Homo sapiens: one gene and its partner. The protein of the gene in region 1 purifies or fractionates together with the protein of each later gene. This does not show direct contact. Each region holds a gene or a part of one and is shown on either strand. Other genes may lie near its edges. The genes, in order: DCT and LMF1.

Region 1 (3,809 bases):
TGTCTAAGCACAGACAAATTATGAACATTTTCCAAGCCACAAGATGCATGACATCCCCTTTCCTGGCTAATAGGAGCAAAAAATGACAAATGCCTTCACCGATGGCATTAATACAAAAACTCACATTTGAGGCAATTTAATTTGTTAATCTGATTCATACCTCTGACATGTAATAATACAGACAGTAAATAGGATTGCTGTTGACTGTGCAGGAGCCTCACAGTTATTTAAATTTCAGTGTGATGAACTCCTTTGGTATATCAGTTTGATTTCTGTCTCACTTTAAAACAAAAGAAGAAAACTGCCAGGCATGGTGGCTCATGACTGTAATCTCAGCACTTTGGGAGGCTGAGGTGGGAGGATCACTTGTGCCTAGGAGTTCAAGACCAGCCTGGGCAACATTATGAGACCTTTTCTCTACCAAAAACCTTTACAAATTAGCTGGGCATGGTAGCATGCACCTGTGGTTCCAGCTACTTGGGAGGCTGTGGTGGGAGGATCACTTGAGCCTGGGAGGTCGAGGCTGCAGTGAGCCATGATCGTGCCACTGCATCCCAGCCTGTGCAACAGGGTGAGACCCTGTTTCAAAAACAAAAACAAACTGAACAAAACTTGACAATAGGATTCTAAATTTTACAATTCTGAGCTTTTTTAGTGTTTGTTTATTTGTTTGTTTTTGGAGACAGAGTCTTGCTCCACTGCCCAGGCTGGAGTGCAGTGGTGCTATCTGGGCTCACTGCAACCTCTGCCTCCTGGGTTCAAGTGATTCTTCTGCCTCAGCCTCCCAAGTAGCTGGGACTACAGTTGCACGCCACCACGCCCGGTTAATTTTTATATTTTTACTAGAGACAAGGTTTCACCATATTGGCCAGACTGGTCTCAAACACCTGACCTCCTGATCTGCCCACCTCAGCCTCCCAAAGTCCTGGGATTACAGGCGTGAACCACTGGGCCCAGTCTTTAGTTTTTAAAGTATATTCATCCCCTGGTGAACTTTTCTAAGACAAACAAAATGGGGAAATACGAGTCAGGGCTACACTGTTCAGCTACCCTAGTCAATGCTCTTCAGTCTGTGACCTCTAGGAACACAATGTAGTTGAATACATTGGTCTGTTACTCCTTGCAGGCAGAGAATGGAGGACTGTGGAAAGTCTCAGCCAGTGGGTGTTGGAAAAGACAGAAAGGGTTTGGGCTTGTGCTAGGTGATTTGGGGAGGACTTTTGGAAGCTTTGCTCTGAATCAGATGTTGTCAGGAAGCAGGGGTATGCTTCCTGATTCTATGAGTGGGTATCTTGATAGAGTGATTATGTCTGTATATGGGGCAGACTAGACTGAGGTTAAAGCCATAATTGGTAAAACAGCAGCAGATGCTCATATTAGCCGGGAAAGGGGGTGTCACGCATCTTGCATCTTGGACAATGTTCATAATTTGTCTGTGCTCAGACACGGTTATGGGGTTTTCTTGTTTTTGTCCTGATCCGTCATGGTCACAGAGTGGCCTTGTCTGCTGTCGATGTTCTACGAAATCGTTTATGTCTGATAGGGGGACATCAAGTCCTCGTTGATAGCGCCAGGCCAGCTCTTGAATGTCAGGGGCTGCTTTTCTAAGTACAGGTCACTCAAGTTGTCATAAGAGATTTAGACAACATACACATTCATGTCTCAGCAGCCAATCCCCAAAAGTGCTCCTGCTTTACAGATACGCAACTCACCCTCGTCTATTTTAACCCTGTCTGTGTGTCTTCTGAGTTGTATGTCTTGAATAGATAGTTTTGGAGCAATTACAAGAAGAAATTTCACCTCTTCTCCTTTTTTATTTTGCCAGTATTTTGAGTTTATATTGTTATCCAGTTAGATTGTGTGATATCCAAAGACTCTCTGTTTTTCTCCAGAATTTTCCTCACCTTAATGTTAATCTTAGCAATGTGTCTTAGTCTGCTCAGGCTGCCATAATGAAAGACCACAGATTGGATGGCTTAAACAACAGAAATTTATATCCCACAGTTCTAGAGGCCAGGAGGTCTAAGACCAAGGTGCCAGCTGATTTGGTTCCTGGTGAAGACTCTCTTCCTGAGCCTTCTAGCTGCATCCTCATATAGTGGAGGGAGAGAGAGAATAAACTCTCTGATGCCTCCTTTTATGATAACACTAATCCAGGGCCCTATGGTTCTGACCTCATTAAACCTTAATTACCTCTTTCTAGGCTCTATCTCCAAGTATAGTCACATTGTGGGTTAGGGCTTCAACACACAGATTTTGGGGAAACACAGTTCAGTCCAGATATAGCATTTATAATGCATTGTCAAACCATCAGTTTATAGAAGTTTGTTTTTCTTTTCTTTTTTCTTTTTGAGACGGAGTCTCTCTCTGTCATCCAGGCTGAAATGCAGTGGTGCAATTTTGACCCACTGCAACCTCCGCCTCCTGCGTTCAAGTGATTCTCCTGCCTCAGCCTCCCGAGTAGCTGGGATTACAGGCACGTGCCACTGCGCCTGGCTAATGTTTGTATTTTGAGTAGAGACAAGGTTTTGCCATGTTGGCCAGGCTGGTCTTGAACTCATGACCTCAAGTGATCCTCGGGCCTCGGCCTCTCAAAGTGCTGAGATTATAGGCGTGAGCCAATGCACCCAGCCAGAAGTTTGTTTTTCTGGACTTTTTGGAGGCTTCATGACTGATTACAAGTCAATCAGTTTTACTTGATACAGACCAGGGCAATCTTGGGAATGTAATTGAACCACATGGAGCTTCTGCTTCCCACTCTGCAAAGTGTGGGTCTCTTGACCTGATCTGGTGGTGAAAATGTTGTTCTCAGTGAAGTGACTCTTAGTAGATTAGGACAATAGGAAACTGGTCTAGAGCCCGTCAAGTACAATACAAATGTTATCATAACAATAATAATGTGTTTTATAATGGTCAGAATTAGAGAACCATATGTTAGGTTTAGATTTTCAAACCTTAATTAATATTTCTTATCTTGTTCTCCAAAGCAGACAGTAATGCCCTAAGACATTTTACTAATAAGCACAAAGTCAGAAGTATTTCACAGGTGATTTATTATTGTTACTCAACCCAGGGTACAAAAAAAGGAGCTATGAAGAGGGAGAGTAAAGGTATAGCTTTCAATGATTCTAAGCTTGCCTGATGGGTGTGAAGTAGCTTTCTGGGGCTCCTAGATAGATTAAAGCATAGTCAGGTGAGCTTCAAGAAATCCTGAGACGGAATTAGTTGGTAGAGTTGTTCTTTCCTTCTAAAAAATGTTTCTTTCCTCATATTTGCATAGTAGCAATAAATGAAGGGGTTGTCAGAAGTCTGAATTAATGGTCCCAGCCTCTAACAAGGTGGGGGCTTATCTGTGACGCCGCCACAGCGATCTTTGCTTTTCTCTAGAATGCCTGCTTTGTTCAATGATTTTAACTTGATAGTTCACATCATTTTTTCTGGCTATCGTCTCAGCCATAGCTTATGCCAAGCATTTCTGGTGTCTGCTTTCTCAGCCATGTATCTGTACATCTATTTATACTATACGTCTCTAAGTATTTATTAAAGCATACATTGTCAACTGTACAATTTATACACACAATTCATATTCATAAGGAAAAATGTCATAATACTCCTTATCCAGTACTCCAATATGTTATAAGTAGAACAGTGGAATCCTCTGATAAATTAAGGATTATACCCCAACTCTTTCTCTCCTATTAAAAATGATGCTAGTAATTTGATTTTCTGCATCCCAAGTCTCCAGGATTGCTAAACCGTATCTCCTTCTTTTGAACAAGCCTGCTAAGTGGACAGAAATTGGCAACATT
Region 2 (4,494 bases), on another chromosome or scaffold:
CCTAAGCTGGCCCCCAGGTCACGAGGAGAGGTACGGGTCGTGGGCTCTGTGGAGGGACTTGGGTGCCGGGCGCCAGCCAGGGCCGATGCCTCCTGCGATCCCCAAGGCTCCGAGCCCTCAGGCACACACCACGCTCCCGGAGGCTGGGCCAGCATGCGGAGGATGTTTGTGTGTTCGTACCCGTTGCAACATCTTTAACAGGGTCCCATTTCACAGCTGGGCTCCTAAGGGGGGTTTCATAGAAAAGAAATGGAAACTAAAAATGAATTAAACCATAAGATGTACACGTATGCTACGGCCCCAGCAACACAGGGAAGGTGGAGGCTGAGAGGAAGCTCGGGCCACTGCTGGTCAGGCCTGGATTTGGGGGCCCGATGTCCACAGTCAGTCCCTGCCCACACAAGGCTCACACTGCAGGTGGTGAAGATATAATTAAACAGGTAATTAAACAAGCAATAAAGACGGGTCATTTGACCAACCCAGTGGCGATAATTGATACGCCAAAACACTAGGAAAGCTAGAGAGGCAAAAGAGAAGAATACATGAAAACAAAAACAAAAAACCAGGACAAATATTTCCAATATACACAAAAGAACAGGATTTTTCATACGTAAAGAGTGCTGACAAATGAATAAGGAGAAATCTGCACTTCCACCTAAGTGCCCCACAGTTTATTCACTAACCCCTAGGTCTCCAATGCCTACTCTAGCCTCACGCCCTTTCTTTCCTCTAAGGAATGCCTGTGACCCCAGCCCTTCCTAGCACCCGCTTCACATCAGCCTCCAGAACCCCGCTCCAGTCATCAGAGTGTAGAGTGCTGGCGTCCTCCTTCATGTTCTGTTTGGGGCATTGGGCAGTTAGCCCTTCCCTCCTGAGTCCTGAGTCCCCCTCTTCCCCCACAGCTTGAAGTCCAGTCCCAAGGGCAGGCAGGAGCTGGGTTGTGCAAAGGCGGAAGGGTGCTCAGGCTGGGAGAAAGGGGAGGGTCCCCCGAGCATTCCAGGCACAGCCCTGCCTACTCTGTCCCTTGCTGGCTGCGACGATCGCCCTAGCACCCTCCTCCGCAGAGAGTGAGTGTCAGCTGTGAGGCAGGGGCACGCAGTGGTAGCACCGCCAGGGCCTGTGCAGCCCACCTTCCCCAGGACCACAGCTGGGAAGGCGCCTGGCTGGGGGAGGGCACCTGGCCTCTGCAACTCGGACTGACGGAAGGCACGCGTGCCTGCCCCAGTGAGCTCGGGTCGGGCGACGCGCACCACCTCCCAGGTACCCGGCCCCGCGCCCTACCCGCAGCAGCGCCCAGCGAGAACTGCGAAGGAGGCAGGCTCCGGGCACCCGCTCCCGCGCGTGGGCGGGGCCGGCTGGAGGGGGCGGTGCCTCCGGGACTGTGAGCGGGGCCTCCCGGGGTGTGGGTGGGGCCTTCGGCCGTGGGCAGGGCCGGCCAGGGAGAGGCGGGGCCTCCGAGAATGGGCGGGGCCTCCGAGAATGGGCGGGGCCTCCGGGAGTGCGCCCTCCCCGCACATGCGCCCTGACAGCCCAACAATGGCGGCGCCCGCGGAGTCGCTGAGGAGGCGGAAGACTGGGTACTCGGATCCGGAGCCTGAGTCGCCGCCCGCGCCGGGGCGTGGCCCCGCAGGCTCTCCGGCCCATCTCCACACGGGCACCTTCTGGCTGACCCGGATCGTGCTCCTGAAGGCCCTAGCCTTCGTGTACTGTGAGTGCCGGGCGGGCCCGGGACATCCGCCAGTGTCACCTCCGCGCACCACGACCCCCGCCCTCCCTCGAGACTCCTCCGCGCGGTCTCGCGGCCGCGGCGCCCCCACGCAGCCCTCCTTCCTGCTGGGGCCCGGGCAAGGCGGGGCGGGCAGGGCAGGACAAGGCTTGCTGGCGACAGCGCACCCGGCCCTACCCCTGTCGCCGCCTCGAGCCTCCGGCCTGGGCTCCTGGGCTCCCGGTTCCACCCGCAGCCCCGAAGTTGCACGGCCGCGCCTGCCAGGACCGGCTCGGGGCTATGCGAGGCGGGGCCGGCCCGGGCCCTGGCCCAGGAGTTCCCAGGAGAGCTGGGCAGGTGGAGGGTCACCCGTCCGTGCGCAGGTCGGGGGTCTGCGTCCTGGCTGCGGGGCGGGGGGCGGCCTGGAGAGGCGAGGCGCTCCTGCTGTCCCCGACACAGCGCTGTGCTGACGGTGAAGGTTCCCACTGTAACTGGACGCCCGCACGCCACATCCCTGCCGCGTGCGGCCCCTGCCAAAATCCGAGGAGCCGGCCCGGGAGCCTCCTTCGCGTCTCCCAGGGGCTGAGGGAAGGTGACTGGCTGGTGGCCAGACTGGAGTTTCTCCTTTAGTGTTCTCGACTAGCTCAGTCTGCGTTCGGGAAGATTCCCAGCGGAGGTCTGGGGGCAGCTCCGGAACCTCATCTGCAAGTGAAGCCTGCGCCTCACTGTGGGATGTGGTTGGCCGGGTCCACTGGCGGAGACCCTTCACCCCACAGCTGTGCGGGGCCCGCGTGCGCAGCCTACAGAGCAGAGCTCTGAGAAAAGTCAGTTCACGCTCAAAACCTCTGGATCCCCTGGCCAGGGGCAGCTGGCGATTCCAACTCCCTCTCTCCCCAGTCCCTACAACCCAGAACTGGTTTGGAAGAGAACGGTTCTGTGATCACGGTGACATGTGATCACACGGATACATGTTTCATAAGCCCAACGTGTCAGGAGCTACGAACCTCAAGTGAGGCTCTCAAATGAGTATGGAAGTGAGGGGAGCCTGCCAGGCCGAGATGCAGCCAGCGGGGCGCGTGGGCAGTCACCGTCCCAGAGGGCTCCGGAGCTGCTGGCCCCGGGCGTTGCCCACGCGTTGGTTGTAGGCCGTGGGCATTGGACGTCTCCCTTTCCTTCCATCGTCTGCTTCCCTCACGTGTGGAAGGAAAGGGTCAGGTTGCAGAAGTTCTTCTTTGCACAGCCTTTGTGCCACACACGTCGCGGGAAGTTTGGTAGCCTGGTTGTGCTGGAGTGATGCTCAGTTCGACGTTTTGTGTGACATTTGTGTGATACTTTCCACCTCCTGGTGCAAAGTGATGAGACGCGCTCATCACTACAAGGTTTCCTGTGGGATTGCAGTATCGGCTTCAACTGGGTCTGTGTCTCTCTCTCTCTTTCTTTAAAGCAACTATTTTATTTTATTTATTTATTTTTTTCGAGACGGAGTCTCACTCTGTTGCCCAGGCTGGAGCGCAACGGCACCATGTCGGCCCACTGCAACCTCCGTCTCCTGGGTTCAAGCGATTCTCCTGCCTCAGCCTTCCGAGTAGCTGGGATTATAGGCACGCACCACCATGCCTGACTAATTTTTAAAAATATTTTTAGTAGAGACAGGGTTTCACCATGTTGGCCAGGCTGGTCTCGAACTTCTGACCTCAGGGCCTCCCAAAGTGCTGGGATTACAAGCGTGAGCCACTATGCCCGGCCTGCAATTATTTTAAAAAGTAGTTCTTCCCAGGTTGCTTTTCCCTCCACAGTATTAAACAGTCATTTTAAATGTTGGTGCTGTCACTTAGCAAACGATGAAGTAGAGATAAAGTGAAGCTGTGAGGCTCTAATAGGCCTTCCACAGGGGAGCCCGAGATACAGCAGGAAGTCCCAGCGGCCTTGCCTCCGGAGCACAGCTTCATAAAACCAGCTCAGACTCTTTCAAACGAGCTGAGGCTCCTTTGATCTCCGCAGGGATTCTCTGTTCAATTCAGAAGGAACTGCTTTTAAGCCACTGGGTCAAGCGGATATTTTAAGCCTGGTGCCCAGCATTGAACATTTCTCCTTGACATATGCACGTTCTTCTGTCTTGTGAGTACATTTGGGGTAGAATCAGTGTTTTTCTGCTGTATCAAGGAACCAGTTTCCCATCTTTCAGGGACATGGTTTTCTGGCTGAGCTGGCCCAGGGCAAGCAGGCAGTCATCCTGCATTTATCTCCTTCTAGAAAGTTCTGGATTTTACTGGGACTGTGCGCTACTCCCTGTTCCTCAGAATCCCAGGGTTTTTCCAAGTTGCCATAGGGGCTCTCCAAATATTTCACTTGATACTGAATTTTACAATGTTTATAGCTATTGAAACACTTGTAATTAAACACATAACCAAATGTATTCTGTGGAAACTCCCCTTGTTAAAAGACATTGAACTGAGGGAGGCTTACCCTTAGGCAGATTGTCTCAGCAGACATGTAGTAAAGATGTACAGATCAGGAGAACACAGAAACGCCTGCCCTGTCGGGGAAGCTTCGAAGCCAGACCTGGAGAGGCCGGCTGCCAGCGACAGGCCTCTGCATTCAACCTGACTTTGCATCCGTCCTGGGGCTGGCTCCTTCCCACCGCGGGCCTGGGCGTTTCCATGTGCTGCCACCGAGGTGTGTAGGTGCTAGGGGTGTGCTCACTGCACACAGACGTGCATACCGCGGGCGTCCTGGGGTGTCGGGCATGCCCTGCTGTGCTGTGGGAGCCGGAGTGTGTTAGCGGAAAG

Evidence for each region.
Region 2: the proteins of DCT (region 1) and LMF1 purify together in Homo sapiens (affinity purification with mass spectrometry; one large-scale study listed by BioGRID and IntAct). This does not show direct contact.

Annotation. Positions count from the first base shown.
Region 1 is NC_000013.11:94,455,672-94,459,480, reverse strand, and holds part of DCT (L-dopachrome tautomerase isoform 1 precursor), read left to right. Parts: intron 1-3,809. UniProt on the Homo sapiens protein: Plays a role in melanin biosynthesis. Catalyzes the conversion of L-dopachrome into 5,6-dihydroxyindole-2-carboxylic acid (DHICA).
Region 2 is NC_000016.10:968,002-972,495, reverse strand, and holds the start of LMF1 (lipase maturation factor 1), read left to right. Parts: upstream 1-1,511; 5' UTR 1,512-1,515; coding exon 1,516-1,708; intron 1,709-4,494. UniProt on the Homo sapiens protein: Involved in the maturation of specific proteins in the endoplasmic reticulum. Required for maturation and transport of active lipoprotein lipase (LPL) through the secretory pathway. Each LMF1 molecule chaperones 50 or more molecules of LPL.